4 linked regions of the Homo sapiens genome follow. The main gene of each other region encodes a partner of the protein of the gene in region 2 in a complex. Each region holds a gene or a part of one and is shown on either strand. Other genes may lie near its edges. The genes, in order: ISY1, XAB2, ISY1-RAB43 and PRPF19.

What was found.
Region 1: XAB2 (region 2) and ISY1 share a complex: the UniProt entries of both Homo sapiens proteins name them as parts of the XAB2 complex.
Region 3: XAB2 (region 2) and ISY1-RAB43 share a complex: the UniProt entries of both Homo sapiens proteins name them as parts of the XAB2 complex.
Region 4: XAB2 (region 2) and PRPF19 share a complex: the UniProt entries of both Homo sapiens proteins name them as parts of the XAB2 complex.

The regions. Positions count from the first base shown.
Region 1 is NC_000003.12:129,129,392-129,137,201, reverse strand, and holds part of ISY1 (pre-mRNA-splicing factor ISY1 homolog), read left to right. Parts: intron 1-5; coding exon of another isoform or gene 6-71; intron 72-2,247; coding exon 2,248-2,370; intron 2,371-3,006; coding exon 3,007-3,128; intron 3,129-6,565; coding exon 6,566-6,652; intron 6,653-7,013; coding exon 7,014-7,121; 3' UTR 7,122-7,810. Other genes in the region: ISY1-RAB43 protein, read left to right, coding at 2,248-2,370, 3,007-3,128, 6,566-6,652, 7,014-7,114. UniProt on the Homo sapiens protein: Component of the spliceosome C complex required for the selective processing of microRNAs during embryonic stem cell differentiation. Required for the biogenesis of all miRNAs from the pri-miR-17-92 primary transcript except miR-92a.
Region 2 is NC_000019.10:7,619,045-7,626,854, forward strand, and holds the end of XAB2 (pre-mRNA-splicing factor SYF1), read right to left. Parts: intron 7,227-7,810; coding exon 7,092-7,226; intron 7,001-7,091; coding exon 6,836-7,000; intron 5,402-6,835; coding exon 5,257-5,401; intron 4,839-5,256; coding exon 4,687-4,838; intron 4,246-4,686; coding exon 4,126-4,245; intron 3,850-4,125; coding exon 3,718-3,849; intron 3,618-3,717; coding exon 3,486-3,617; intron 3,401-3,485; coding exon 3,287-3,400; intron 2,254-3,286; coding exon 2,091-2,253; intron 1,993-2,090; coding exon 1,802-1,992; intron 1,626-1,801; coding exon 1,503-1,625; intron 1,403-1,502; coding exon 1,231-1,402; intron 1,032-1,230; coding exon 902-1,031; intron 813-901; coding exon 703-812; intron 604-702; coding exon 542-603; 3' UTR 481-541; downstream 1-480. UniProt on the Homo sapiens protein: Involved in pre-mRNA splicing as component of the spliceosome. Involved in transcription-coupled repair (TCR), transcription and pre-mRNA splicing.
Region 3 is NC_000003.12:129,150,390-129,158,199, reverse strand, and holds part of ISY1-RAB43 (ISY1-RAB43 protein), read left to right. Parts: intron 1-1,279; coding exon 1,280-1,345; intron 1,346-1,524; coding exon 1,525-1,567; intron 1,568-7,810. Other genes in the region: pre-mRNA-splicing factor ISY1 homolog, read left to right, coding at 1,280-1,345, 1,525-1,567. UniProt on the Homo sapiens protein: Component of the spliceosome C complex required for the selective processing of microRNAs during embryonic stem cell differentiation. Required for the biogenesis of all miRNAs from the pri-miR-17-92 primary transcript except miR-92a.
Region 4 is NC_000011.10:60,903,373-60,911,730, forward strand, and holds the start of PRPF19 (pre-mRNA-processing factor 19), read right to left. Parts: upstream 3,214-8,358; 5' UTR 3,011-3,213; coding exon 2,992-3,010; intron 490-2,991; coding exon 340-489; intron 164-339; coding exon 87-163; intron 1-86. UniProt on the Homo sapiens protein: Ubiquitin-protein ligase which is a core component of several complexes mainly involved pre-mRNA splicing and DNA repair. Required for pre-mRNA splicing as component of the spliceosome.

The sequences.
Region 1 (7,810 bases), on a different chromosome or scaffold from region 2:
TTTAGGCCAGGTGCGGTGGCTCATGCCTGTAATCCCAGCACTTTGGGAGGCTGAGGCGGGCGGATCACAAGGTCAGGAGATCAAGACCATCCTGGCTAACATGGTGAAACCCCGTCTCTGCTAAAAAAAAATACAAAAAATTAGCTGGGCATGGTGGCGGGCACCTGTAATCCCAGCTACTTGGGAGGCTGAGGCAGGAGAATGGCGTGAACCCAGGAGGCGGAGCTTGCAGTGAACTGAGATCGCGCCATTGCACTCCAGCCTGGGCAACAGAGTGAGGCTCTGTCTAAAAAAATAAAATTAAAAAATAAAAAATAAAAAAAAAAAGAAGAAGAAAATACAAAATTAGCTGGGCATGGTGGCAGGTGCCTATAATCCCAGCTACTCGGGAGACTAAGGCAGGAGAATGGCGTGAACCCAGGAGGCGGAGCTTGCAGTGAGCTGAGATCACGCCATTGCACTCCAGCCTGGGTGACAGAGCGAGGCTCTGTCTTTAAAAAAAAAAAAAAAGAAGAAGAAGAAAATACAAAATTAGCCGGGCGTGGTGGTGCGTGCCTGTAATTCCAGCTACTCAGGAGGCTGAGGCAGGAGAATTGCTTGAACCCAGGAGGCGGAGGTTGTGGTGAGCTGAGATTGCGCCATTGCACTCCAGCCTGAGCAACAAGAGCGAGACTCCGTCCCACAAAAAAAAGAAAAAAACATGCTGGGATTACAGGCATGAGTCACTGCACCTGGCCAGCTTTTATTCTTTCACCAATCTGGTTGGTTGTCATTTTGTTTTTCATTTTTAATAATTACTTAGCCGGGTGCAGTGGCTCACACCTATAATCTTAGCACTTTGGGAAGCCTAAGCGGGTGGATCACCTGAGGTCAGGAGTTCGAGACTTGCCTGGCCAACATGGTGAAACCCCATCTCTACTAAAAATACAAAAATTAGCTGGGTGTGGTGGCGGGTGCTTGTAATCCCAGCTACTCGGGAGGCTGAGGCAGGAGAATCGCTTGAACCCGGGATGCAGAGGTTGCAGTGAGCCAAGATCATGCCATTGCACTCCAGCCTGGACAAGAGCGAAATTCCATCTCAAAAAAAAAAAAGAATTACTTAAATATTCTGGATTGTAGTCCTAGTCTGAAAATATCTTCTTTAGGGCTTTCTCATGTATCTTTTTTGTTTGTTTCTAGCTTCTTTTGTCTTTTTTATTTACTTATGTTTCCTGTCATGCTTTTTCATTAAACATTATGACAGTTCCTGTGTTATTAAAATACTTTGTGAAATAGCATTACAGGGGCTGCAGGATATCCCATCCCATACATATTCTGCAATTTACAATCATAGGTTATTCCCAAGTTTTCTCTATTATATAAATAATACTGTGATGCATATTTCTGTACATGAAGCTTTTTGCTATCTCGTGTTTGGTTTTTGTTTTTTTTTTTTTGAGATGGAGTCTCGCTCTGTCGCCCAGGCTGCAGTGCAGTGGTGCAGTCTTCGCTCACTGCAACCTCTGTCCCCTGGGTTCAAGCGATTCTCCTGCCTCAGCCTCAGGAGTAGCTGGGATTACAGGGGCCCCCACCACCATGCCTGGCTAATTTTTGTATTTTTAGTAGAGATGGGGTTTCACCATATTGGCCACGCTGGTCTTGAACTGCTGACCTCGTGATTCTCCCGCCTCGGCCTCCCAAAGTGCTGGGATTACAGGCATGAGTCACCGCACCCGGCCTGGTTTTGTTTTTTACTTAGGTAGATTGCTTTTAAACGGACAAATGGGTCCAAGTACTGATTTTAAAAAGGGCTCTACCACTTAAATAATTCCATGAATAGTATAGAAAAGTGTCTATCCATGGTATTTTCTTTTTCTGTGTGATGGAGTCTTGTTTTGTCGCCCAGGCTGGAGTGCAGTGGCGTGATCTCGGCTCACTGCAAACTCTGCCTCCTAGGTTCAAGCGATTCTCCTGCCACAGCCTGAGTAGCTGGGATTACAGGTGCGCACCACCACGCCCGGCTAATTTTTGTATTTTTAGTAGAGACGAGGTTTCACCATGTTGGTCAGGCTGGTCTCGAACTCCTGACCTTGTGAGCCACCTGTCTGGGCCTCCCAAAGCGCTAGGATTACAAGCATGAGCCACTGCGCCCACCTGGTATTTTCATGAACATACGTGCCACGTGTGTGTATAGCGTTGCATCAGGAGACAGCTTCGCTGGAGTGTGATTATGACTTGGAAACTCAGCTCCATTTCTGTTTCTTATAGCTCTTCCTCCTCCCAGAAAGACACGTGCTGAGCTCATGAAGGCAATCGATTTTGAGTACTATGGTTACCTAGATGAAGATGATGGTGTTATTGTGCCTTTGGAACAGGAATATGAAAAGAAACGTAGGTCTCTGGGCATTTTATTTCATAATAGATGGCATCTGTTTTCTGTTGTGTCCTTTGAAAACAGGATTTTCAATAGTGCTTTATGCCAGAAGGGAGTTTTCTTTGTTGCTAATGATCTTCAGGCGTGATGGTCTGCTAATTCCCTGACCCCTGTGAGGCAGTCAAAGCTGTGTGGGCCAGAGGTAACAGGTTGGGGAAGCCATGAGAGCCACGTCTGACCGGTCCCTGTCTGCTAGGAGGTCACCATGTGGATTCGTGCTAATACCAGTGCCCATGTGACACATCAGGCCAGGACTTTGGAAGCAAGTGGTCTGGAGCTGGAGCTGCTTTCTAGCATGCTCTGCCCCTGCCTTCTCTCTTTTCATGTGGACATGTTGGGAATCCACTCAGGTTGTGGAAGTGGGGAGGATTTGGGAATGTTCCCTAAAAAGCTGCTTTGTAGTGACTGAAGGCCAGAGCTGTTGTAGGACTACCATGCTTCACATCCATTTCCACCCACGGGGGCAGAATGAAGGGTGTCCCTTTCTAGAGGGGATGTCTAGACTTTCCCTGCATAGTGTTGGCCTTTCCCTGCATAGTGTTGAAAGCTCATTTAGAGACAAATAAATAGCACCTACCCTCTCTTGTGTTCAGTCAGAGCCGAGTTAGTGGAAAAGTGGAAAGCAGAGAGAGAGGCTCGGCTGGCAAGAGGAGAAAAGGAAGAGGAGGAGGAAGAGGAGGAAGAGATCAACATCTATGCAGTCACCGAGGAGGAGGTATTGGGGTTGGCCCCCTCTGGCACTCACTGCCATCTGTTCCAAGCCATGAAGTGTGGCAGGGAGGAAACTTGGCTCCCAAATACAGAGTCAGGGTTCACAGCCCAGCTTGCTCACCTGCAGGATGGCTGTGAAAACACTTGCGAGATTACAGGAGGGTTTCAGGAGGCAGCAGCCATGAGAGTGCCCTGCCGGCCGTGCTTTACACCAGGGCTTCCTTCTTTCCTTCTTAAAGACAGGCCCTTCTGCATACACTAGAATTAGACTGATAAACACAGAGGAAGCCATGAGCTTTAGCCCATGACCTCATCACTTCTGTTCACGTGTCAGTGGCAGTTGCTCTTCTGTAGTCTAACACCCCCATCTTTTTTATTTTTTTTGAAACGGAATCTGGCTCTGTTGCCCAGGCTGGAGTGCAGTGGCACAATCTTGGCTCACTGCAACCTCTGCCTTCCGGGTTCAAGCAATTCTTCTGCCTCAACCTCCCAAGTAGCTGGGACTACAGGCGAGTGCCACCACGCATGGCTAATTTTTGTATTTTTAGTAGAGACGGGGTTTCACCATATTGGCCAGGCTGGTCTCGAACTCCTGACCTTGTGATCCACCTGCCTTGGCCTCCCAAAGTGCTGGGATGACAGGTGTGAACCATTGCTCCCAGCCCTAACACCCCTGTCTTACACATGGAAAGAAACGCAGAGCAGAGAAGAAACTTTCTTAGAGGGTCATGGTTGGGGAATCTTTGCATATTTTCAGACCTTTTGCATATTTTCTGATCTTTTGCATATTTTCTGATTTATAGGAAATACTCATTATATATCTTAGTTATTACTTTTTATTATAGCCACCATGTAAGTAATCTTGACATATCTGTCTGTGCTACACCTTTTATTTTTTCTATGAAACATTACCAAAACTTCACTGCATTAAAGGAGGTATTCTGAAACAAGGAAAATTCAACATTTGAAATCTCTGCCTCCCAGGCAGAGCTCTTCTGCGGGGCCCTATATTTGGAGTCCTTGCTGCCTGCACAGGTCTAGGTGGATCTGATTTGCTGGACTGAGAGAAGGGAGGGGATCACCCACACATGGATGATGGCTCAGGTTCCACATGAGGAGCTTGCTGAGACATCACTGGTGAAGAAGCAGGCTCAGGTTTAGTGACTTAATGTCACATGGGATATAACAGGCCTGACGTTCCTGCTCATGTCCAGCTGGGCCAGCACTGGGGTTCAGTGCAGGTCTGAAGCAGGATGGCAGCATGCCTTAGGAGGATTTCCTCTAGGTACAAATATTCATTTGCTCTCTCAGCAGGTGTTTAATTCATGGCTCCTGTGAGCCAGCCGCATTCCAGGTGCAGGGGCATGGTGGTACAGAGGCTTGGAGTGTAGCTCATAGTCCAGGGGGAGGCAGTCCAGTAAGAGAGACAGTGAGCAACAGTCCCTCAATAGAGCCTGGTGCAGGGACAGCCTGCAGACACTCTGCTGGGAAGCTAAACCCTCAGCTGAGATTAGGATGATCCAGCGAACTTAACCAAGGAAGGAGGAGATGAGAGAGGGCTCCCAGCAGGGGCGCATCATGTGCTGAGAGATCCTGTGATGAGTGTGAGAGACAAAGGACAGCCCAGTGTGCTGGAGTGCAGAGAGTGGGTGCTGGGTGTGAGTGGAGGCTGATGGGGAGCTGGCGTTGTGGGGAAGAGCAGTGGAAACCCACAGCAGAATTTTTTTTTCTTTTCAAATAATTATAGAGATACAGGAAGTTGCAAAGAGTACAGAGAGATCTTGTGTATGCTTCACCCAGTTCCCCCCAGTGGTTGTATCTCATGTAGTTCTAGCACAGTAGTAAAACTGGGAGGTTGACATTGGCATATTGAGTGTGTGGAGTTCTGTGTCATTTGTCTCCATGTGTGGAGATCCATGTGGCCATCATGACAATCCAGATACAGAACTGGCCGGGGGTGGTGGTCACACCTGTAATCCTAATACTTTGGGAGGCTGAGGTGGGAGGATTGCTTGAACTCAGGAGTTCAAGACCAGTCTGGCAACACAATGAGGCCCTGTTTCTACCAAAAATAAAAACAATTAGCTAGGTGTGGTTGGACATGCCTATAGTCCCAGCTACTCAGGAGGCTGAGGTGTGAGAATTGCTTGAGCTCAGGGGGTTCAGATTACAGTGAGCTGTGATTGCACCACTGCACTCCAGCCTGGGAACTGTCCCCTTACTACAAAGATCCCTGGTGCCACCCCTTCACAGTTCACACCTCCCTGTCCTCACCATCTCTTCTCCTAGCTGAACCCTAACCTGTTCTCCATCTCTGATTTTGTCATTTCAGAATGTTTTATAAATGGGATCATGCTGTGAGTCACCTTTCACGATGGCCTTGACACTTAACATGATGCCCTTGCCATCCCTCTGGTTGTTGAGTTCAATAGTTCATTCCTTTTCACTGCTGAGTGTTGTTCCATATACAGAAAAGTACACACCTGCTAAATGTGTAGGTCACTGGATTTTCACAGGGTGAACACACACACACATAGCAAATACCAGTGAAGAAACAGAACAGGACCACAGCGCCAGAAGCTCACTACTGCCTCAGGGGTCACCCTCCTGACCTCTTGTGACCCATATATTTCACTTGTGTCTGAACTTTACATATGTGAGTCGTGTGTACTCTTTTGTGTCTAATGTTTGTGGGTATTTGTGTTGTGTCCAGATTGGGGTTTTGGCAGATAGGGTTGCTGGGAATTTTCTTGTTCCCGTGCAGTGTTTCTCTTGAGTACATGCTGAGGAGTGGAACCACCAGATCAGGGTAGGTATGTGTTTAGTGTTAGATACAACCAGTTTCTCCAAGTGCCAGCAGTGGATGAGAGGTTCCTCAAGAGGCTTTTGAAGCCATCCCCACTGGGAGCCAGTCAGGGAATGGGTCGTGCACGGTGTCTGGCAGAGCCCAGCAAACAGTGGACTCCTGACTCGCCACAAGACCCCTTCTCTCTTTCCAAGTCCGTGGTGTTTTCTTTGTTATTAGAAATTTGTATTGACTCATAGGCAACCTCTGAGCTGATTATTTTTCTATGCATGGTACATTCTTTTACATTTAAATTTTTTAAAATAGTGATACATTCACAAGGTTCAAAAGTGAAAAAGAATATAAAGATATTCCACAAAGATTCTCTTTCCTCACCCTGTCCCTCATCTACCTTGGTCTCACTGCCGTCAGTAATTTCTATTCTTATTTCCTCCTTAGACAAAAGGTAGCATAATATACAGCGTGTTCTATGGCTTTTTTTACTTAATCTTGTGGGTCAAGTGTCTTTCTATAAGTATAGAACTTTCTTAGTTTTTTTTTCTTTTAAATAGTTGCAGAGTAGTGTGTTTTATAGAGTTGCCAGCATTTATCTAGCTGGGCGCCTACTGATGGACTTTCGTTTGTTCTGTTTGTAGTCGGACGAGGAAGGCAGCCAGGAGAAAGGAGGGGACGACAGCCAGCAGAAGTTCATTGCTCACGTCCCTGTTCCCTCGCAGCAAGAGGTAGGACCACAGCTAAGAGCTGCCTGGGCGCCGGGGGCTTCTCTAAAGCAGACTTCACAGAGCACTGTAGTGGGTTTTCGTTGTCCTTCCTACCCATCAGGGCAGCTCAGGGTCCTGACCACATGACACCTGTCATTGTGTTCAGGGTGTGGGGTCCAAAAAGGGCAGGACCCTCTGCTCTAGGCCATTCTATCGTTCAAATGTTTCCAATGGGAGGGAGTTAGGACTCTTGGAGACTATTCTGCGTATTTAAATCAGACTCCTTGATGGACTTCTCCCACGGGGACTTCCTCCTGGCTGGGTCTGGCAGGGGTTGAGGGGCTTTGCTGAGGAGTGAGCCCTGCACTCTTAATTTCCACAGATTGAGGAGGCACTGGTGCGAAGGAAGAAAATGGAACTCCTCCAGAAGTATGCAAGCGAGACCCTGCAGGCCCAAAGTGAAGAAGCCAGAAGGCTCCTGGGGTATTAGGACCCAGCTGGGGCTCTCCTTGGAGTTCTTCCATCCCCCAGTGGTACCTCAGGACCCAGGGCTGCAGACACAGGCTGGTGCTGCAAGGGCTCCTGCCCCATTCTCAGCCTTCCTTCCCTCTCCTTGTCTCATGTTGACCGGAGGGTAGGGGTCTGTCCCTGGTCTTCCTGGTAGGTTTTGTACACATATTTTGCTACTGTGTGGATCCATTTATTTTTATTGTGGAGTGTATACAACAGGTTGCGAACTGGCTGCCTGTGTCTTATTTTGACTTGCACTGCCATTTTGAGGGGAGAAGAATCAATTAGTGGCAAACATTTAAAAATGCAATTTTTTGCAGACCAAAGTATAATTTTAAAAAATGCAAATTTTCTAAAAGACACATCTCTTGAAAAATGAGATGATGTGGCCAGGCGCAGTGGCTCACGCCTGTAACCCCAGCACTTTGGGAGGCCGAGGCGGGCGGGTCACGAGGTCAAGAGATGGAGACCATCCTGGCCAACATGGTGAAACCCCATGTCTACTAAAAATACAAAAAAATTAGCTGGGCGTACTGGCATGCACCTGTAGTCCCAGCTGCTTGGGAGGCTGAGGCAGGAGAATCACTTGAACCCGAGAGGTGGAGGTTGAAGTGAGCCAAGATCGTGCCATTGCACTCCAGCCTGGCGACAGAGTGAGACTCTGTCCCA
Region 2 (7,810 bases):
CTGGTCCTGGGCCGTGCACAAGGTCTGGCGCCTGGCCCCCGTCCAGGCACAGAAACGCGTTACTAATCAGTTCCCAGAGCTGGGCCAGAGCCTGCCTGACTCCAAGACTTGAGGGCAAGGGCCAGTCCCTAGTGGGGAACAGACAGTGGGTGCCACCCCAGGGAGGCGGCAGCTGCCTGGGGCCACAGAAGGGCTCTGAGAGGCAGGGGCTGGCGAGACCTGGGCAGCCAGGGGCTGGATTGCCCTTCCCAGGCTACAGAGGCTCAAGGAAGTTTCCGGGCAGGACCCACTCCAAGGCCCCAGGCAGCGGAGGGACTGGCCTCTCGAGTCCAGAACTGGCTCTGCGGGGTGAGGCCGGGCAGTATCTGGCCTGGGGCCCAGCCGCCCCACCTCCCACAGCAGCCAATCCCGGCCCAGGGCCAGGCACTCCTGAGCTGTACTCCCTCGGGCACCTGGGCAGCAGGAAGGAGGCTCAGACCATGATGTACAAACGTAGCTGTATTGGGGAGGGGGTGGGGAGGGGGGATGGGGGAGGGACGGGTCAGTCTTCCTTCAGGCTCCCAAACACTGCGGCTGGCACGCTCTGCTGCTCCAGCCGAACCTCTGTGGGGAAGGCGGGAGCCAGTCACCCTCCTGGCGTTGGCCTGTCCCCCGAGGCCCACCCTGGTAATGCCACCGTCCCCGCCCCAGCCGGGCCCTCACCGTTGGGCTCCAGGTCCATCTCGTCCTCGTCCTCGTCCTCGCCCAGCTGGATCTCCTCGGGGTTGACCTGCTGTGCCAGCTCTGCCAGCTCCTCCCGGGAGGCGTCACTCCTAGGGACGGGCCATGCTGCCTCAGTTCCCCACCCCGGGCCCCCTTGGGACCTGTCCCAGTCCTGTCCCGTCCAAGGATCCGCCCTCACCTCACGAACAGGATCTTGCTCTGGGCGCGCAAGGGCTGGTCACGCTCCGCCTCAGCCGCCAGCTGCTCTGCCCGCTGTTCCAGCAGCTTCATGTCGTCCATGCCACTCTGCCCAGGGGCCAGGTCAGACACTAGGGGGTGGGAGCAGGGGGTCAGCGCCACGGGGGCCCCTCCCACACATCGGACGTTGCACTATCCCAGTCCCCCAGGTGATGGCCCAGCCCTCAAGGAGATTGCCATCAGGATCCGAGGCTCCCAGACCCGGAAAGCCCAGGTCAGGCCGGGCTGAGATGCCCTGGATCAGGAACTCAGCCAGCTGGGACGGCTCACCGGTGCCCGTGGCACTGCCCGAGACCTTGAGCATCTGCGAGGCCATGAAGTTGACCTGCGTGTTGTACGTGGCCTGCACGCTGCGCCGGATACGCAGCATTTCCTTGATGGTGTCCTCATTGCCATGCCGGACCTCAAAGTCCTTCCACGTCTGCCAGAACGCGCCGGTCGTCTGCGTGGGGGGCAGGGCAGGGGTGGGTGTGTGTGCCCGTGAGCTGGCTGACTCCGCCGCAGCCCCCAACCCTGATACCCGTCCCTCCCCACAGCCCTACCCGGGGGTCACAGATCTGGGAGCAGAAGCTGTAGATGGCCCGGGCGCGGTCAATCTCCCCGAGCTTGCACTCCATGTCTGCAAACCGCAGGCACATCTCACGCGCGTGCTCGTCCGACAGCACCTGGACACCGGGGTTGGGGAGGCCGGGAGTGAGGCCGGGGTAGCTCGGGGGCTCCCAACACACCATGGCCATCCCTGTGCTTCCAGAAGGCTCCTCCTCAGCCCCTCCCACCTGCCTGGACCCCTTCCGTCTGCTCAGGGACCTCTGGCCCCGGCCCAGCCCCCCACGGTGGGTACCTCAATGGCCTTCTGGTAGATGCCGCGGGTGTGGGTGACCCCATAGATCTCGGCCGCCCGCTTGATGTAGATGTTGAACATGTCATACTGCTGGGCGGGCTCCACGGCCCTGGTGGCACGCTCGTACACGGCCATGGCATGCCGGGCCAGGCCCCACTCCTCCTCCAGCTGTGCGTACAGCAGGTACAAGGCTGGGCGGGGTAGGCGGGGAGAGGGGAGCACGGTCAGCCGGGGCCAGTCAGAAACCCAGCCCGCCCGCCACCCCCCCCATGCCCTCTGCCCGCCTCACTCTTGGCATATTTTGGGGGGCAGCCGTCCAGAGCCTGTTCAAACAGGTCCCGTGCCCGCTCCAGCTTGCGGCCCCCATAGCGGGCAATGAATTTGGTCAGGTAGGTGCTCCAGATGTCGGACACGTTGGGCCACTTGAACAGCGAGATGCCGCGCTCGTACGCCTGTTACCAGAGGGAGAGTCACATGTGAGAGTCTGCAGATAGAGACCACCAGGCACCCGGGATGTCCTTGGGTGGCGTCTGTAGGGAGCCTGCCAGGAACTCCCTTGGGGCCCTTCCCTGTCCACGCCTCCCTGTCCCTAATGGCAGTTGTGGGGGTCTGTCCTCTGCACTGTCTCCCTCTGTGAGAACCCCAAGAACAGGGGTGCAATGGGACCTGCTAAGCACAGTCTGGCCCCATAGGAGGTGACATGATGGGTGAAGGTGGGTGGCTCCCCAGCTCCGCTGACGCTGGCTGCCTGTCCCCAGGGAGAAGGCCGCACCCCCTGACAGAGGGGCAGGCAGTAGCACGCGTATGCATGTACGACCTCCCCATTTGTGTATCTGTATAATGCCCACACGATCCATAGAAACACACACTCAAACATGACTGCTCCGGCCGCGGGACATGGCCTTCCCACGGACACGCAACCCACCCCCTGGACCCCACAACCCGTCTCCTGAGCAGCGGGGCAGGGAGAGCCCGCACACACTGGCACCAACACCCTCCCCATGAGTCATGGGTGCACGTGGAAGTAGGATTCTGTGCCTGCTATGGAATGAACTGTGCCCCCCTCAAAACATTCATATGCTCAAATCTTAACCCCCAGTACCTCAGAAAGTAGATTCGTTTGAAGATGAGATCACTAAGTTAAACTGAGGTCGTTAGGGGCCACCTAATCCATTATGACTGATGTCCTTTATAAGAAGAGGAAATTTCAAAAGTGACACACACAAAGAGAAGGCCACACAAAGACATAGGGAGAAGGCGGCTGTCTGTAAGCTAAGGAGAGAGGCCTCAGGAGGAACCAGCCCTGCCCATGCCTCGATCCTGGACTTCCAGCCTCCAGGACGGGGAGAAGCTAAATCTTTGTTGTTTAAGTCACCCAGTCTGTATACTGTGTCACACAAGCCCCAGCAGATTCGTAAGTTGCTGAGGACCCCTGGGGAGGGGACACTGCCATCAGGGGCCTCTGGGTCCACCCTAGCCCCTCACCTTGAAGCTCTCCTCGAAGTACTTGTGCTCCTCCAGGAACATGGCATAGTTGATGACGATCTGGGGTGTTGCGATACGCAGGTCCAGGATGCGGTCGTACACGGCCTTGGTGGACTGCAGGGGTGGGGATGGGAAAGGTTGGAGCTGGTTCTGGAGCTGAGTCCGGGGCCCCGTCCCTCCCCAGCCACAGGCAGCTCACCTGGAAGGTGCCGAGGCTCTCCTCCAGGTCGGCGAGCATGGACCAGACCTTCAGTGACTTGTACACGCGGTTCTGCACGGGCTCTGAACCATCAAAGTACTCGGCCCGGCGGGCAGGCAGCGCCGTGGCCTTCTGCAGGGGCAGACAGTGGCCGGGGAGGCGCTCAGGGGCTGTCCCTGGCCCTTGCCCTACAACCTGCAGCCCCCACCCCACAGCCTGGGCCTGTTCTCACTCGCAGCAGCCGCAAGGCCTCATCGTAGTTCTCGTGTCGGAGCTCCAGCTCTCCGCACTGACACCACACGCTTGCCAGGTCATCCACCTGCTTGAAGTTCACCTTGGTGGCCTTCTCCAGGATGACACGGGCCTGCCGGGGCGGGCAGAGGCGAGGCTGAGACCCTGCCCACCTGGACAGCTCCCACCATCAAGGGTCAGAAAGGTGACCATGCTCACAAACATACAGGCACAAACACACAGGCACACACACAGGCACACACATGCGTGCACATATGCATGCACCCAAATGCACATGCACACACACGTGCACACATCCATGCACAAATATGTACACACACATACATGCACACATATACAAGCACACACACATGCATGAACACACAGGCACACGCAACAGGGTGCTCACATCGTCCAGCTGTCCGTTGTCCTCATAAAACTTGGCAAACGCCACCCACAGAGTGTGGGGCTTGCCTGTGGCCTTGAAGGGGTCCACCGTCTGCACAGCCTCTGTGTAGGTGTTGATGATCTGGGGACAGGAGGGAGGAGGTCATATAGGACTCAGGACCCTGCAGATGACGGTCGGGGCAGAGCTGTGGCTCTGAGGGGTGGGGCCTGGAGGGTGCTGTGGCCCCTGTCGGGAGAGGCCAGAAACGAACTATGGCCCTTGACAATGGTCAGGACCAAGAGAGAGCTGTGGCCCTAAGGGGCGGGGCCAGGAGAGAGCTGTGACCCTCCAAGGGGCGGGGCCACGAGGGAGCTGTGGCCCTCCAAGGGGTGGGGCCAGGAGGGACTGTGGCTCTGAGGGGCGGGGCTCGGGCAGGAGGAGAACCCCAAGAACAGGGGTGGAATTGGACCTACTAAGCAAAGTCAGGCCCCTAGAAGGTGACATTATGGGTGAAGGTGGGTGGCTCCCCAGTTCTGCAGGAAACTGGCCCTCAGGGGTAGGACTGGGGCAGGCTTCATGTACCTCCCGGGGGCGGCCCTGGTGCAGGGCGACACGCTTGTGCCACTCGTGCACGTGGTGTGGGTTTTGGCGCAGCAAGACGCTGTTGAGGAGCAGGGGCCGCCGGCTGATGAGCTGCTCGAAGCGGGCCAGGCGCAGCTCCAGGTCCACATCATCTGGGAGCCGCGAACATGTTTGTCAGGGGCGGAGACCCAGGATGCAGGTCCCCGGATGCCACCGCCTCCACTCCCCACCCTCACTCCGCTCCAGCCCCCAGCCAAGTGCTCTGGGCCCTAGACACTCAGCTCGGGTGTCCACCTGAGCCCCACCCCCAGCCCCAGGTACTGTGGATACCCCCTCCTACCCCCACTGTTCCCCTAGCCCTCCTGCCCTGCCAGGCTCTGGCCCAGGCCTGAGAAGTGTCCCCATTCCTGGCTCCTTCAAGACCCCCACACCCCCTGCATCCACTCAGCCTCCTTCCCTGCTGGCCCCCAGCTGAGCCTCCCAGGGCTGCCTCACCTGAGATGTGTCCCGCCCCTACCGCTAATGTCCACTCAGCTCTCTCCCCACCAGCCGGGGCCCCCAGAGGCTCACCCTCCTCCTCGCGCCCCAGCTCCGAGGCGGTCTCCATCTTTGCAGCGATCATGCTCTCCTCGAACTGGGCGTAGCTGTCAAACACCTGTGTGAAGTCCCGCACGGTCATCACTGTCCGGATGGCCTCCTCGTACACGTCCCGAGCCTGTGGGGACCCAGGGAAGGGGAGGTGAGAGGAAAGTGGCGCAGGGGACAGGCAGCAGCACTCTTAGCACCAGCCTCAATGTGGAACCCCTGGGGGCCTTCTGGGTAGTGACGCATCCAGCACCTCTGGGTAGTGACCCCAGGACAGAGCCTCCGTGGAGCCTTCTCACCCCCGCCCTGCCCTGCACTGCCAGGGTGGTCTTGGGAGCTTCAGGACCTCCTCAGTAAACTGGGTGACTGCCCTTTGCACACAGTGACCTCAGGGCTCGACTGAGACACATGTGTGAAGCACTTGGCACCCAATAGGTGGCCAAAAACCCCCCAGCGCCTATGGGTCCACCCTGCAGGGACCCTCGCCTCAGCTCATCCTCCGAGGCCTCAGAATTTGCTCCAAAGCGTCCCTCTCGCTTGCCTGACCCTCTTCCCCAGCCCGCCTGTCCTCCACCTGGCTCGCCCACCCCAGCTCAGGTCCCCTCTCTCTACCCAGCCCTGACGGGTCTTGCCCTGCTGCCTCCGACAGCCTTGGCCTACACGTGCCCCTGGAAGGGGCGCTGCGAAGCGCATACCGCCCACACCCCACTGGCGGCTCCCCCAGCCAGGAGCATGGCCAGCCCGTTTGGCTTTCGAGGCTCCCAACCTATCTTCCCTGGGTTCCTGAGCCTCCCCGCTCTCGGCTCTGGCCCCCTCTGCACCCACCTGCCCCCAGGCCATCCCCTGAGCTTGCCACTCCACTGCCTGCCAAGAGCCACAGTCAGCTAACCCCTGAGGGAGTGGCCCTCACACCACGTACCTCCTCAGTGCTGTGCCTGCGTCACTGAGCTGATTGGTGACAGGCAGTAACTGTCACCCTGATTTTACAAATGAAGACACCCCACCTTAGTGGGGCCAAGGCCGCAGAGCCAGAGGGTGAACCCTGAACGCAAATGTGGCTGACTCCAAGGCTGACGTGCCTGCGGGCAGGAGTGCTCCCCCACCCTCAGCAGGATAGTAATCGTGTGCAGGGATATGCATGTCTGTCAAAAATGGCACTTTTTTTTTTTTTTTTTTTTTTTGAGATGGAGTCTCGCTCTGCCACCCAGGCTGGACTTCCGTGGCGCGATCGCAGCTCACGGCAACCTCCACCTCCCAAGTTCAAGCGATTCTCCTGCCTCAGCCTCCCGAGTAGCTGGGATTACAGGCGCGCACCACCATGTCTGACTAATTTTTGTATTTTTAGTAGTGATGGGGTTTCACCATGTTGGCCAGGCTGGTCTTGAACTGCTGACCTCAAGTGATCCTACCGCCTCGGCCTCCCAAAGTGCTGGGATGACAGGTGTGAGCCACCACACCCAGCCATAAATGGCATGTTTTCTGCCTGTGCATGTGTCAACATGTGTCCCCGAGTGTCGGAGGGAGACCCCGCCCCGAACCCAGAGCCCCGTGTGCCAGCATGCACCTTCTCGAAATGGCCGCTGCGGATGTAGTAGTCGGCGAGAGAACACCAGAGCTTGCCCAGCTGGTCGGTGAAGCGGGTGAGGCCCCCGCGGATGATGGCGTCCACATTGAGGGACTGTACCTTGTCCGGATTCTGGGAGATGAGGTCGCACAGCTCGTGCCACAGCTGCAGGGCATGGGGCAGTGGGGGAGAGTCTCAGGCTCAGTCATGGAGGGGGTGGCCCTCCCACCCAGTTGCCGGCTCCCGGCAGGCCCACCTGGTAGTTGGACTTGCCGGCCTTAGACACGAAACGCTCGTCGTTCACCACGGTGGCCAGGCGCTGGGCGGCCTCATCCAGCCGGTCACTTGACTTGAGGTACTCAATGTACTCCTCTGCACTCTCAGGACTCAGCTGGGGACCGAGCCACCCCTCAGGCAGTCAGTGGGGTGGCAGGGCTACGCCCACCTCCCGATTCAGTGGCTTCGGGGCGTCCCCCCCCACCCATTTATGAGTGTCTTGGGCAAAAGCAAGCCCTGTCAAACCAGCCTCAGCCCCACTGGTCCAGCCCGGTTCCTACTGGTCTAGCCTTGGCCCCACTGGGTTAGGCTCAACCCCCTGTGGGTCCTGCCTTGGCTCCACTGGTCCAGCCTCAGTCCTGACTAGACCAGCTGTGGACTTTTTGGGTTAGCCTTGACCCGCAAGGGCACAGCCTTGACTGCGGTGGTCCAGTCTCAGCCCCAATGGTCCAGCCTTGGTCCTTTTGGGTTAGAATTGACCCCCAACCCACAATGGGTCCAGCCTTGGCTCCACTAGTCCAGCCTCAGTCCTGACTGGTCTAGCCTTGGCCCCTTTGGGTCAGCCTTGATCCCATGGGTCCAGCCTTGACTATAGTGTCCAGCCTGGGCCCCACGGGTCCAGCCTCAGTCCTGACTGGTCCAGCTTAGAATCCAAACGTCATAAAACAGATACTTTAAGTTTGAGCAAACCATGCCCCA
Region 3 (7,810 bases), on a different chromosome or scaffold from region 2:
CCTGGGTGACACAGTGAGAACCTGTCAAAAAAAAAAAAAAAAGTAGGGTGCAGTGACTCACGCCTGTAATCCCAGCACTTTGAGAGGCTGAGGGGGGTGGATCACTTGAGGACAGGAGTTTGAGGCCAGCCTGGCTAACATGGTGAAACCCCATCTCTACTAAAAATACAAAAATTAGCTGGGCATGGTGGCAGGCACCTGTAATCCCAGCTACTTGAGGCTGAGGCAGAAGAATCACTTGAGCCCTGGAGACGGAGGTTGCAGTGCACCGAGAGCGCGCTGCTGCACTCCAGGTCAACAGACTTCAAACTTCAGAATTTCCTATTTCTTATCTGTACCTGCTGACGCTCTTGAGAGTCTGTACACTTGAATTCCAATACCTCCCCATAGCTGAGGCAGGGTGATGGATCTGGCTGCTTGTTTTTCAGTTTCTTCTGTATTATGATGACTGGGCCCGGCCCTTTTTTTTTTTTTTTTTTTTTTGAGATGGACGCTCTGTCGCTCAGGCTGGAGTGCAGTGGCGTGATCTTGGCTCACTGTAACCTCCAACTCCCTGGTTCAAGCAATTCCCCTGCCTCAGCCTCCTGAGTAGCTGGAATTACAGGCACATATCACCACACCCAGCTAATTTTTTTGTATTTTTAGTAGAGATGGGGTTTCACCATGTTGGCCAGACTGGTCTCAAACTCCAGGCCTCAGGCAATCTGCCTGCCTTGACCTCCCAAAGTGGGAATTACAGAGATGAACCGCCGTGCCCAGCCTGATGACTGGGTCCTTTATTACTCCAGCTCTAATATTGAATAGGGACTGGAGTATGATGTGGAGAACAGCTGTAAGCTGAAACCGGTAAATTATTTCATTTCTTAGAGACTCACCCAAATTAGAGATAATATATACCATTCTTTGGATTTTTTTTTTAATTTTATATACGCACATGTATATGAATACACCCATATTTATGTATGTTTGTTTTAAACACTGATAGACATTGTTTCTTAAGGTACTATAAATATGCCATGAAATAGCTATAACCTAGTTTGGCTGTCTCTCTATTGCAGGACAGTTAAGTTCTTTCCAATATTAAATACAATGCAATCAATGTTTTTCCTAAGGAGAGATTGTAGAATGAGGTTTAAGGCTTGATGAGGATCATCTGGAATGAAAACTTCAAATGTTTTTAGGCCATTAGATGATTTAGGCTTAAGGCCTGAATCAGTTCTGAATGTTGTTTGAAACTTGTAAATAGTATAATGGAAATGTGTTATTTTTTTCTCCTTAGGAACGAAGACCCTTTCTGGCCTCAGAATGTACTGAACTGCCTAAAGCTGAGAAGTGGAGACGACAGGTATGTTCTGGGTAAATCTGATTTCAGTAGAAGTAACAAGTCTCTCATTTCTTCTTATTATCTAAATGACTGTTAGACCAAAAGTCTAAGTATTTTTAAATACTAATTTTGAATTATAGTTTTTCTGTGCTTTCTAACATATTCAAAAATTATTAAAATGTATTACTTTTTTTTAATAGATCATTGGAGAGATCTCTAAAAAAGTGGCTCAGATTCAGAATGGTAAGCAAACTTGTTCCTTTAAAGTGCTTGATTCTCAAATCCACAATTAGACTTGAGGACTTCAATACTCCTTTCAAAATAATCAATAGAGCAAGTAGATAGTAAATCAGTAAGGACATAGAAGAGCCAATCAATACGATCAGTCAGTTTGATGTAGTTGAAAGTTGTAGAATACTCTGTCTCACAACACTGTACCTAACAATAAAGAATACGTCATTTTTTTTTTTTTTTTTTGAGACAGAGTCTCACTCTGTCACCCAGGCTGGAGTGCAGTGGTGCGATCTCGGCTCACTGCAAGCTCAGCCTCCTGGGTTCACGCCATTCTCCTGCCTCAGCCTCCCGAATAGCTGGGACTACAGGTGCCCACAACCACGCCCGGCTAATTTTTTTGTACTTTCAGTAGAGACAGGGTTTCACCATGTTAGCCAGGATGGTCTTGATCTCCTGACCTTGCAATTCGCCCGCCTCAGCCTCCCAAAGTGCTGGGATTATAGGTATGAGCCACTATGCCCGGCCTAATACATGGTCTTTTTTAAGAGCACGTGGAACATTCACCAAAATAAAACATATTCTGGGCTGCAGAACAAATGTTAGCAAATTTAAAATATTTGAGGCCGGGCGCAGTAGCTCACGCCTGTAATCCCAGCACTTTGGGAGGCCGAGGAGGGAGGATCACCTAAGGTCTGGGGTTTGAGACCAGCCTGACCAACATGGAGAAACCCCACCTCTACTGAAAATACAAAATTGGCTGGACGTGGTAGCGCATGCTTGTAATCCCAGCTACTTGGGAGGCTGAGGCAGGAGAATCGCTTGAACCTAACGGGCGGAGGTTACAGTGAGCCAAGATCACACTATTGCATTCCAGCTTCAGCAACAAGAGTGAAACTCCATCTCAAAAAAAAAAAAAATTGAAATTACACAGAGTATTTTCTCTGATTATAACAACAGATTCATATCTGAAAAATTCCTAAATATTTGGAAATTAAACAACATATTTGTAAATAATTCATGTGTCTGAGAGGAAACAGCAAAGAAATTAGAAGATATTTTGAATTTAATTAGAGTGAAAACGTAATGTCAAAATTTAGGGGATGAAAAAATTTATGGGATATAGTGCTTAGATAAAAATGTATAGCACTGGCCTGGTGCGGTGGCTCACACCTGTAATCCCAGCACTTTGGGAGGCCGAGGCGGGTGGATCACGAGGTTAGGAGATAAGAGACTATCCTGGCCAACATGGTGAAACCCTGTCTCTACTAAAAATACAAATATTAGCTGGGTGTGGTGTCATGTGCCTGTAATCCCAGCTACTCAGGAGGCTGAAGCAGGAGAATCGCTTGAACCCGGGAGGCGGAGGTTGTAGTGAGCCAAGATCGTGCCACTGCACTCCAGGACTCCATCTCAAAACAAACAAACAAACAAACAAACAAAAAATACATATATAGCACTGAAATAATAGAAAATTATGAAAGTTTTCAAATCAGTGATCTAAGCTTCTACCCTGTGAAATTAGAAAAGAAGAGCAAATTAAACCCAAAGCAAGCAGAAGGAAGGAAATAGTAAAGATAAGAAATCAATAGCATTGAAAACAAGATGAATAGAGAAAACAGACCAACAGCTGGTTCTTTGAAAAGATCAATAAAATTGCTGGGCGTGGTGGCTCACGCCTGTAATCCCAGCACTTTGGGAGGCCGAGGCGGGCGGATGACGAGGTCAGGAGATCGAGACCATCCTGGCTAACACGGTGAAACCCCGTCTTTACTAAAAATACAAAAAATTAGCTGGATGTGGTGGCAGGCGCCTGTAATCCCAGCTACTTGGGAGGCTGAGGCAGGAGAATGGCATGAACCCAAGAGGTGGAGCTTGCAGTGAGCTGAGATCGCGCCACTGCACTCCAGCCTGGGAGACAGAGCGAGACTCTGTCTCAAAAAAAAAAAAAAGATCAATAAAATTGATAAACTTCTAGTCAGACTGACCAAGAAAAAATATACACAAATTAAGAATATTAGGAACCAAATTGGGAATATTACTATAGAATCTATATACATTAAAAGGATAATAAGGAAATATTACAGACAATGTTATGCCCATAAATTTGACAACTTAGATGAAATAGGTCAATTCCTTACAAGACACAAACTGCCAAAGCTCACTTAAGAGAAGTGGTCCTTTTTTTTTTTTTTTTTTTTTTTTGAGATGGAGTCTTGCTCTGTCACCCAGGCTAGAGTGCAGTGGCGAGTTCTCGGCTCACTGCACTGGGTTCAAGCAATTTCTCCCTGGGTTCACCTCCCTGGGTTCAAGCAATTTCTCCTGCCTCAGCCTCCCGAGTAGCTGGGATTACAGGCACCCTCCATCATACCTGGCTAATTTTTTTTTTTTTTTTTTTTTTTGAGACAGAGTCTCGCTCTGTCACCCAGGCTGGAGTGCAGTGGCGCCATCTCAGCTCACTGCAGGCTCCGCCCCCCGGGGTTCACGCCATTCTCCTGCCTCAGCCTCCCGCGTAGCTGGGACTACAGGCGCCCACCCCCTCGCCTGGCTGATCTTTTGTATTTTTAGTAGAGATGGGGTTTCACCGTGTTAGCCAGGATGGTCTCGATCTCCTGACCTCGTGATCCGCCCGCCTCGGCCTCCCAAAGTGCTGGGATTACAGGCGTGAGCCATGGCGCCCAGCCAAATTTTTGTAATTTTTTAGTAGAGACAGGGTTTCACCATGTTGAACAGGCTGGTCTTCAATTCCTGACCTCAGGGGATCCACCCTCCTCGGCCTTCCAAAGTGCTAGGATTACAGGTGTAAGCCACAGTGCCTGGCCGAGAAATAGTTCATTTTGTTTTGTTTTGTTTTGTTTTGAGACAGAGTCTTGCTCTGTTGCCCACACTGGAGTGCAGTGGCATGATCTTGGCTCACCGCAGCCTCTGCCTCCCGGGTTCAAGCGAATCTCCTGCCTCAGCCTCCTGAGTAGCTGGGCCTACAGGCGCCCACCACCATGCCCAGCTAATTTTTTTTTGTATTTTTAGTAGAGACGGGGTTTCACCATGTTAGCCAGGATGGTCTCGATCTCCTGACCTCATGACCTGCCCACCTCACCCTCCCGTAGTGCTGGGATTACAGGCTTGAGCCACTGCGCCCAGCCCTGAAGAAATTTTTGATTGTTACAACTGGAAGGGTGCTACTGGCACATAGTGGGTAGAGGCCAGGGATGTGCTAAGCCTCCTACAAATAATTATCCTAAATAAACTACAGTGTCAATAATTCTACTGTTTAGAGACACAGTTCAAAAAGAAATGGTAAACCTGAGTAGTCCTATATCTGTTAAAGAAATTGGGGCTGTGCACCGTGGCTCACGCCTGTAACTGCAGCACTTTGGGAAGTGGAGGTGGGTGGATCACCTGAGGTTAGGAGTTCAAGACCAGGCTGGCCAACATGGTGAAACCCTGTCTCTATGAAAAATACAAAAATTAGCCAGGCATGGTGACGCATGCGTGTAATCCTAGCTACTTGGGAGGCTGAGGCAGGAGAATCACTTTAACCCAGGAGGCAGAGGTTGCAGTGAGCCAAGATTGGGCCACTGCACTCCAGCCTGGGTGACAGAGCGACAGTCCATCTCAAAAAAAAAAAAAAAAAAGATGGAAAGAAATTGAATTCATTTCTAAATACCTTTCTAAAAGAAAATTCCAGACCCAGATGGCTTCACTGGTCAGTTCTACTAAATATTTAAGGAAGAAATAATACCAACTCCACATAGTTTCCTCAAGAAAATGGAAGAAGAGGGAACACTTTGTAACTCATTTTGTGAATTTTAGTATCAGCATTACCCTGATGCTAAAATCAGAAAAAGATATTATGAGAAATAACTACTGACAATATTTCCTATGAATATAGACAAAAATCTTTAATGAAACATTAGCATATCAAACCTAGCAATGTATGGCCGGGCGCGGTGGCTCACGCCTGTAATTCCAGCACTTTGGGAGGCCAAGGTGGGTGGATCGTGAGATCAGGAGATCGAAACCATCCTGGCTAACACACGGTGAAACCCCGTCTCTACTAAAAATACAAAAAAATTAGCCGGGCGTGGTGGCAGGTGCCTGTAGTCCCAGCTTCCTGGGAGGCTGAGGCAGGCGAATCGCTGGAACCCGGGAGGCGGAGCTTGCAGTGAGCCGAGATTGCACCACTGCACTCCAGCCTGGGCGACAGAGCGAGACTCCGTCTCAAAAAAAAAAACAAAACCTAGCAATGTATAAAAAGGATAATACATCACAACTAAGGAGGATTTATTCTGGAAAAACATAGTAGATTCAGCATTCAAAAATAAGTTAATTCACTGTGTCATTCCAAAGAAGAAAAACTGTATGATCTAAGTAGATGCAGAAAAAGTATTTGACAAAATTAGACGTTTATTCATGATAAGAACTCAGCAAACTGGGAATAAAAGGGAACTTTTTACCCTGATAAAGCACTTCTTTTTTTTTTCTGAGACGGAGTTTTGCTCTTGTCACCCATGCTGGAGTGCAGTGGTGCAATTTCAGCTCAATGCAACCTCCGCCTCTCAGGTTCAAGTGATTCTCCTGCCTCAGCCTCCCGAGTAGCTGGGATTACAGGTGCCAGCCACCACGCCTAGCTAATTTTTGTATTTTCAGTAGAGACAGGGTTTTACCATGTTGGCAAGGCTGGTCTCGAATTCCCAACCTCAGGTGATCCACCCACCTTGGCCTCCCTAAGAGCTGGGATTACAGGCATGAGCCACCACACCCGGCCCTGATAAAGTACTTATAAGAAACCCATAGCCAATAAACTATTTAATGGTGAAGGATTGAATGCTTTCCTCTTAAGATCAGGAACGAGGCAAAGACATCCACTCTCACCACTATATTCAGCGTGATGCTGGAAATCCTAGCCAGTGCGGTAAAGTAAAAAAAGGAAATAAAAGGCATAAAGATTAGAAAATAATAAGTAAAACTGTCTTTATTGTAACATAGAAAATCCTATATAATTTTCTTTTTTTTGAGATGGAGTCTCGCTCTGTCACCCAGGCTGAAGTACAGTGGTGCAGTCTCGGCTCACTGCAACCTCTGTCCCCTGGGTTCAAGCGATTCTCCTGCCTCAGCCTCCTGAGTAGCTGGGACTACAGGCATGTGCCACCATGCCCGGCCAATTTTTGTATTTTTACTAGAGACAGAGTTTCGCCATGTTGGCCAGCCTGGTCTCGAACTCCCAACCTCAGGTGATCCACCCGCCTCTGCCTCCCAAAGTACTGGGATTACAGGCATGAGCCACCATGCCCACCTAAAATCCTACATAATTTTCTATGTAGAAAATCCCAAGGAACCTACAGAAAGACTTCTAAAATGGATAAGTGAATTTATCAAGATCACAGAAAAGAAGTTCAATATACAGAATTATATATATACACACACACCCCATATATATTCATATATATATTTTTATATATTTATATATATTTTTATATATTTATATATTTTATATATTTATATATATATATATTTTTTTTTGAGACAGAGTCTTCCTCTGTCACCCACGCTGGAGTGCAGTGGCCCAGTCTCGGCTCACTGCAACCTCTGCCTCCCAGGTTCAAGCTATTCTGCCTCAGCCTCTCGAGTAGCTGGGACTACAGGCATCCACCACCACACCTGGCTGATTTTTGTATTTTTAGTAGAGACAGAGTTTCACCATGTTGGCTAGGCTGGTCTGGAACTTCTGGGCTCAAGTGATATCTGCCTGCTTCAGCCTCCCAAAGTACTGGGATTACAGGTGTGAGCCACCATGCTCAGCTTCAAAATTATATTTTTATATACTAACATTGAACAGCTGGAAATACAACATTTTTTTAAAGTGCTATTTACAAAAGCACCAAAACACAAGAAATAACTTAGGTATAAATCTTTTTAATTTTAATTTTATTTATTTATTTTTTTGAGATGGAGTCTTGCTCTGGCGTCCAGGCTGGAGTGCAGCTCACTGCAAGCTCCGCCCCCCAGGTTCATGCCATTCTCCTGCCTCAGCCTCCCGAGTAGCTGGGACTACAGGCGCCCACCACCACGTCTGGCTAATTTTTTTTGTATTTTTAGTAGAGACGAGGTTTCACCATGTTAGCCAGGATGGTCTCGATCTCCTGACCTCGTGATCCACCCGCCTTGGCCTCCCAAAGTGCTGGGATTACAGGCATGAGCCACCGCGCCTGGCCATACTTAGGTATAAATCTAACAAAATACAGTCAGGATCTG
Region 4 (8,358 bases), on a different chromosome or scaffold from region 2:
GCTCCATCCTTCCTACCCCCAAGTCCTAACCCAGCAATGCATTCTCTTCAAGTGGGGAAGATGCTGATTCTCTTGCAGGAACTCACCCACTCATCCTGCAAAGCTTTCAGAATGGCCGGGATGCTGGTGGCTGAGGGAGGCTTGGGCCGGATTGGGTGAGCAACTGCCGAAAGGGAAAGCAGGTATGAAGAACATAACCCAGGGGCCTCCCCCGCCATCACATCTTTTCCTTTTAGCCATAAACAGCCCACCATCTCTTCCTCCAGTGCACTGGCACCACCTCCCATCCTCTCAGGCTCTGAGCTAAGATGGCCCTAGACTAAGGCAGCCAATAGGCACCTTTGATGTCGATGAGCTGCTCCTCGGAGAGAGGCTGGTTGTTGATGGGGTCGGTACCATTCTCCGCAATGTACTTCTCGATGAGCCGCCGCTCATAAACATGATTAGAGACAGGGGATACACATGGGTGCTCCGGCACTTCGTTAGAGACTGTAGAGAAAAGGCTGGTAGTGAGCTTGGAGTGAAGGCAATCTTGGGCCTAGAGGATTCCTCATCTGCTATTAGCCCCAACAAGACTAGGCATCCTCACACTCAACTAGCAGAAAGCAAGACATTTGACCCTAAGCCAGTTCTGTACTGGCCCCAGAATGCTTTCCAGCTATGGAACTACCTTTTCCTTTAGTCTCCTGACTGAGGAGATAGTCTCCTGACTATCTGACAATCATATAGTCAACAAATAATTATTAACAACTACTATGTGCCAAGCACCTAGAGAATAGCAGTCCATTATCACCACCTCATATCTGAACAATGATTGTGTACTCTATGAATACAGTTTACTCCATGACATGGAGATACACATGAAGCCATTCAAATCCCTGCCATCCATCTTAGTCTATAGCTCCAGACAGATTATCAAAGAAATTATAAAGTCTGAGAATACAGGAATAACAAACTCAGTTTCTCCTATTCTCTGACAAAACAAAATACTTCTGTGACCTCAGATGTGACCATCTGGGTGTCCTCCAATTCAATTCTGACACCAGGTACCTGGAGATAGTGTCAGATCATACAGGTTGAGGTCTCAGTCCCACCAGACTCCCCGCCCCTTCAGATGCCAATCGCAAGCCCCAGGTTGTTTGACCTGTTCTTCTGATCTACCAGCTGTAAATCAGGGTTCCCATGACCTCCTTTTTGGGTTCAATTAATTTGCAACAGTGACTCAAACAATTGTGGGAAACACTTATGTTTACCAGTTTATTGTAAAGGATATTACAAAGGATACAGATGAAGAGGAGCATAGGATGAGGTATGGGAGAAGTACAGAGCTTCCCATGCCTTCCCTGGGCACCCCACCCTCCAGGAACCCCCACATGTTCTGCTATACAGAAGCTCTTTGAATCCTGTCCTTTTGTATTTTTATGAAAACTTCATTACAAAGGCATGATTCAATAAATCACTGGTCACTAGTGACGACTTCAGTTCCTCTCATTTCCCCAGGTAAATGGGGGGTAGGACTGAAAATCCCAACCTTCTAATACCCTTTAGTCTTCCTAGGTGACCAGTCCCCATCCTGAAGCTATTGAGTCTACCAGCTACCAGTCAACTGATTAGCGTACAGACACTTATCACCTGGAAGATTCCAAGGAGCAAAGTGGCAATCGCTACAATAAAAATATTTAAAAATATTTACATGGCACATTTGCATGGCACATTTCTATGTGCCAAGCACAATTCTAGGCATACAGTACAGTAATTCATCTTCACAACAACCCGCAATAGAGGTATCATTTACACTCTTGCCTGCGTAGACTGTGCACCCCTTGAGGATAAGGATTACAGCTGGTCTCTCACTTCCAGTACAATGCAGATGCCCCCAGGGCACTCGGTAAACATCTAACAAATGAGTGAACCATGCCAGGAAGGATGGTGCTGGGGAACGTAAAAGAGAGCTTCCCGAAGATTGGAAGGAAACAATAAATGTGAAGGTACTTTGCGAGCTGTAATTTCTTCAAAGTGAGGGATTCCTTTTCCATCATTTCCCTTCCTTCTTCCCCCTCTTTGGATCAATGTACAGGTTCTGAGAAGAGAAGGAAGTGAATAGCAAAAGGGAGGGGAAACGAGTAATCTGATGAAACAACGAAAAGGGAAAGGAAAATGTCTGTACGTCATGATAAAATATCAAAGGGAAAGATAGTGGAAGGTATGAAAAAAGCATGGATTCAGGGTCCAAGATCCGTGTCACCTAACTACGTCACCCAGCTCTGCCACTGACTAGCTACGCATCCTTAGATAAGCCCCGCTCTTCCTGCGCCTTGCATCCTCATCTGCAAAACCAGGATCTTTATTTCTCCTTTAGGGAATTCTTGTGAGGATAAAATGAGATCATAGACTTGGAAGCGCGTTGTAAACCAATAAGGGCTTATAAATGTGCGCTGTTTTTATTAGTCATACAGTGTAAGGCTGGGAGCCAGATACCTGGCTGCCAGCCTTGCCTCTACCTCTAACTCATCATGTGACCTTTGCAAATTGCAAAAGCTCCGACTATCCGAGCGAGGCCTCGCAAAACATCCACTGCAATGCTCTCGATTTTGCAGATGGGGAAACCGAGGCCCAGAGCCTTGAGCCAATTCATAAAGCCAATGGGAGGCGGACCCTGGACAAGACCTCGAGTTTTCTGACTCCTACATTAAGGCTGCTTCCCTTGCACCAGCTCTCTCTGTCCAGACCTGTTTCCACTCTGTAGAATGAGGCGACCGGCCTCAGTAATGTCTGCGACAATAAACCTCAGGCACTATGTAAACTGCGGGGCACTGCGCAAATGCACCCCGCTCCGACGGGGGGGGCTCCGGTGCTGACAGGCCGCCGCTCGGCCTCCGGAGCGCCCCATTCCCGCCTCCACCCCGGCCCGGGCGCCGCAGCGGACCGCACACGCTCCCGCGCCGCTCTCTGGCCTCCTGAGACCCGCGCTTGGCCGCAGCCAACACTCACTGGAGCAGATTAGGGACATGGCGCCGTCACCGTGCTCCGAGGCGCCACACGCCGGGCTCCGGGACTAGCTTCTGAGCCTCCGCGAGCCACTTCCGGTCCCCCGCTGCTGCCGGGACTGCTCCGCGGCGAGCTGGGAGCCGCCAGCCGAGCGATGCTAGCGTAGCGCTTCACGTGGGAATGGGGACAGCCGCGCGCCACAGCCTTCAGCACCTAACGGAAATTGCCCTTTCCCAGAATGCAGCCGGGCAGGAAAGGGCCCGCCACGAACACTCGGTTATTTCCGGATTGACTCGGCTCGTTCCGTAAAGCGCCGGAGGATTGGCTGGGGCGTCGGGAGAGAGGAGGCTCGAAACTACATTTCCCATGACGCAGTGAGAATTTAAAACCAAAACAATTGGACAGCACTTGTTTTGACAACTGTGCGGCACTGTGCCACGGGACCCTGGTCTTTGAAACCTTGGCGTGCGCGAGAATTTCCCAGTGAGTTTGTTAAAATGCAGATTCCTCGGGTCTGCGTAGACAGACTGTGCCCCACGCTTTTCTAAGTCAGTTGTTTCTCGGGCTACCCTTTAAGAGACACTGCTGGATGGCCTGGTGAAGAAAATACAGAAACAGATGGGTACAAGAACTAAGAAAACGGCTAAGAAAGTGTTTTGGTCCTGACTACTACCATTTCGCTCTGTGATTTGGGGCAATTCACATTGCCCTTTCTTCTTTGTCAAAAGACAAAATCACAACAAACTTAGTTCAAAGATTTTTTTTTTCTTAAGAGACGGACTCTGGCAATGTTGCCCAGGCTGGAAGGCAGTGGCTATTCACAGGTGCGGTCATAGCAATCATGGCTATCACAGGTGCATCCTGGAACTCCTGGCCTCAAGTGATCCTTCTGCCTCAGCCTCCGGAGTAGCTGGGACTTAAGGTGCGATTCTATAGAATTGGGCAGTGCCTCATACTATAAAATATAATGGTTGTTCCAATGAGCTGAACAGGAGAACTTGGTTTTATAGACAGAAAAGGACTGAGGAAAACAGGAACAGAGAACAAAAAGCGGATTGGTCATTTGGTAATTTCAAAATTACTTTTCTTGTAAAGGTTAAAGTGGAGGGGACTTATCATGCCACCTAAAACTTGCCTGTTTGGGAATTTAGCTCCCCCCTACACACACACACACACACACACACACACACACACACATACACACTCAGAAGGTCGTAAAGATCTTCGTTTCAGCTTATTGGCGTGGAGCTTCAGCAGGACTAACTCTTTTTAGCTTGGTCTGTTAGGCCTAGCAGAAGAGCTCAGTCCAAACCAATGGCCTCCTATAAATTTCTTTATTTTGTATTTTGGATTTTGTATTTTCTATTTCTCTTCCAGCTCAGATAGTGTATGATTCTTTGTGGATATCTGTAAGATAAGATACTCTCAGGAATCATGCAAAAGACGTGGTGTGGACTGTAAGGTATCAAGACAAAAGGGCAGGATGAACAGGATGTGAGTGAGAGGGACTTTGACAGGTGGGCAGTATTCAGAGGAGAAGGAGAACGAAAGGCATTCCGGAAGAAGAAACAACGTAAGCAAAAGCTTGGAGAGAAAAATAAAAGTTACAGGTACAAAAGGCAATATGGCATAGTGGCCAAGAGCATGGACTCTGAAGTCAGACTGTGTGCTCAAATCCTAGCACCACTCAGGTGATTGGCAGTATGAACTTCTCTATGCCTTAGTTTCCTCATCTGTAAAACAGAGGGAGTGATGACAAGGGTAGAACTAACTCACTGAACTCTTATGAAGAGTTAATATGCAAAAGGGCATCTCATCTCTGTCTTGCACCAACAAAGTAACTTCCCACTTGTTCCTTGCTTCCAGCCTGGCCTCCTCCTCCTAATCTACTTTCCACAGAGCAGACAGTGATCCACTTTGAACGAAATATCTATTCATGTTATTCCCCAGGCATTTCATTCATCCAACAAATATTGATTGGGTGCTTCCTATGTGCCAAGCCCTATTGTAAAAACTGGAGATAGAAAAGGTCAACAAGAAAGACACAGTTTCTGCTGTCTTGGAGCTTACACTCTACTGTGGGTGGTGGGAGCACAGAGACAATCAACACTTAAGAAGAAAATTCCAGAGTAGTAAGTGCTATGAATACAACAAATCAGAGCAAGGTAGACAGAGGTGCTGGGGATTGGAGGAACGGCTACTTGAGGCAGGGCACTTAGAGAGTGCATCACTGAGGAGCTGATTTTTTTGCTGAGAACTGAATGAGGGTATGGAGCAAAAAAGTTTCCCCTCTGCCCTCTAAAGATTTGCTGAAATTAACTGACAATCGACAGAATAACAGGAGAAAAGGCATACAAGTGTATTAGTGTGTGAGTGTGCACAGGAGTAATACAAAATATGAGGCTCAAAGAAGGAACAGGTGGCTGATGCTTACTTAAATGGCACCCAGGAAAGACGGAGATGGGGGAAATGTAGGCAATTTTGAGGGCTAGCAAATAATTTTTAGGGAGGGCTAGCAAATAATTTTTAGGGGAAATGAATGAGCCCCAAGAACAAACAATGCCTTGGGACAAAGTTCTTATGAGCTCTGGAGGAGGTGGCAACAAATTGTGGGAAGGTGAGGGGCAGAACTCCATTGTGAACAAAGGTTGTCTTATTATGCACATAAGGTCTCTCAGGTAATCTGTTAGAGCTCCCATCAGAAGAATAGATTAAAAGTCTCTCTAGGTGTAGTGGTGAGTTGGTGACTTTTAGTTTTTATTCTTCTCCAGTGGTTAATCTTTCCTGGTTATTTGATGAGTTTCCTGTGGAGGGAGATTTGAGACAATTGCATTTCTTCTGAAAGAAATTTTCTCAGTCAGATAAGGGAACTTCTAGAGAGAGCTTCTCCCTGTACTTAGGGTGGGGGTCAGGGGGCAAGAGAAGGTTAGAAAGTCCTTGGTTCTAAGGCAGCTTCTAAGACCTTCCCATTTCTTTTCATTCAAAAGTGCTCAGCATGCTGTAACCTCAGGACCAATCCAAACTGGGCCTACTCTTTTGATAACAGAATGTCATGTTCTCTTGTAGGTATGACAGAGCCAAAACTCCAAGTCATGTCAGTAGGGCATGCCCAATAGAAAATGCTTTGACATCTAACAACACCCAGAACCAATGATTCCTCCCTGTGGTACCAAGAAGACCTAGACATGATCGGAACCTAAATGCTGGAACTCTTTCAGGAGCAAAGGGTCTGTTGACCAGAAAGATCCAGGGGTAAAATCCACCTCAACATACCCGTGTAGTCAAATTTGACACCCTCCAATCAGACCCTGCCAAGCCAAAATTCCTAATACGTTTCCTTGCCATCTGTATTAGTCTGTTTTCACGCTGCTGACAAAGACATACCTGAGACTGGACAATTTACAAAAGAGGTTTAATTGGACTTACAGTTCCACGTGGCTGGGGAAACCTCACAATCATGGCAGAAGGCAAGGAGGAGCAAGTCACATCTTACATGGATGGCAGCAGGCAAAAACAAAGAGCTTGTACAGGGAAACTCCTGTTTCTCAAAACCATCAGACCTCATGAGACTTATTCACTATCACAAGAACAGCACAAGAAAGACCTGCCCCTATGATTCAATTATCTCCCACTGGGTCCCTCCCACAACATGTGAGAATTCAAGATGAGATTTGGGTGGGGACACAGCCAAACCATATCACCCTCTGACCCCTTAAATCTTGCCCCAGACCCCAAATTAGGAGACAGATGTGAGCCATGCCTCCAGTCTCCTTGCTGGGTGGCCCTGCAATAAAGCCTTTCTGTTCTCAAAAGCTGGTACCATAGTATTGGCTTCTATGTGCATCAGGCAGTGAGCCTATTTGCTCAGAAACAATACTAAAGCACCATACTTTGGGGTATCATTCTCTGAGCCCCAACCAGGGGTCATTCCTGAGGCCATGAATGAGGGAGAGAGTTTCTGGCTGAGGAAACTTGCCCGTAAGTCTTGCACCATCTGGCCCATGCTGACCATCACAGTCTCACTTTATCTTCTTTCCAGCCACATTGGCCTTTCAGTTCCTCAAACATACCCGCGCTGGCTGGTTTCAGAACTTCTGCCTGGATCACTGTCCTCTCCCCCCTCCCTCTTCCCCCTCCTGTCTCAAACCCTCCAATGTAAACTTCAGTCTCACCTTAAATGTCACTTCCTCTGGAGCCCTTTTCATGGTCCCTGGTTTAAATTTAGTCCATACAGCAAACTGTGATTGTCCTCCAAACCACTTCAAAGAACTGTAATCATTTAATTATCTATTTATAAGTATCTGATGTCTGGGTTCTTCACTAGACTGTAAACTTCATGATGGCAGGAACCATAATTGTTCTGGTTACTCTTGCTCTCAAGAGTGTAAGAGTGCCACATTGTGCCTGGCACATAGCAGGAACTTTATGATGATTGTTGGTTGGAAGACAGGTTGCCTGACAGGCCAGTCATCTCAACTACTGTACTTGGATGTGTGGTTGGAAATAAAATGGATCCGTTTAGGAGAGGCCTTGAACCCAAGGTGGTAAAACTTGGGTGGTGATTGGGCTGGCAGCACAACAGCATGTGTTTGCATTTGAGCTATGGAGTGATAACCATACTTTCAGAAGTTTCCTCTGGAAGACACTTACTGGATGGGTTGGAGTGGGACAGACTAGAAGGAGGGAGACTCAGTAATTAATTGTTGAACCAATCTTTATTGAGTACCCATAGCGTGTCAGCCCGGCACGATACTAGGTGTTGGTAGTATCACAATGAGCAAAACCAGAGGTGTCCCTCTACTGGGGAGTTTATGGCTATGATAGCAGGATGCAGGAAAAAGGAAGTCCTGTCAAGGCTTTTCCGTTTCATAAGCCAGCCCACAGGGAATAGAAAAAATTCAGGGCACTTGGTTTCAGAGAAACAGGGAGAGTTAAGGGAAAAGAGATATATGCATTGGTGCTGGTGGGTCCCTGAGGAAGGAACTCTATGCCTTGTTCCTCCCAGACCAAAGCTGCTGTTGCTGCCTGGGGAGCATGGGGACACATTGGCCAAAGACCCAAAAGAAGCTTAATTTCCCAGGTATCTTCAGTAGCAATCTGTGTGGATAAGTGACAGAAGATTAGTCAGGGAGAAGTTGCCAGCTTAAACAACTGACACTGATAATTAGATGAATTTTCTTTTTTTCTTTTTTTTTACATGGAGTCTCACTCACTGTCACCCAGCTGGAGAGCAGTGGCGTGATCTTGGCTCACTGCAACCTCTGCCTTCTGGATTTAAGTGATTCTCCTGCCTCAGCCTCCTGAGTAGGGATTACAGCACACACCACCACACCTGGCTAGTTTTGTTTGGTATTTTTAGAGAGACAGGGT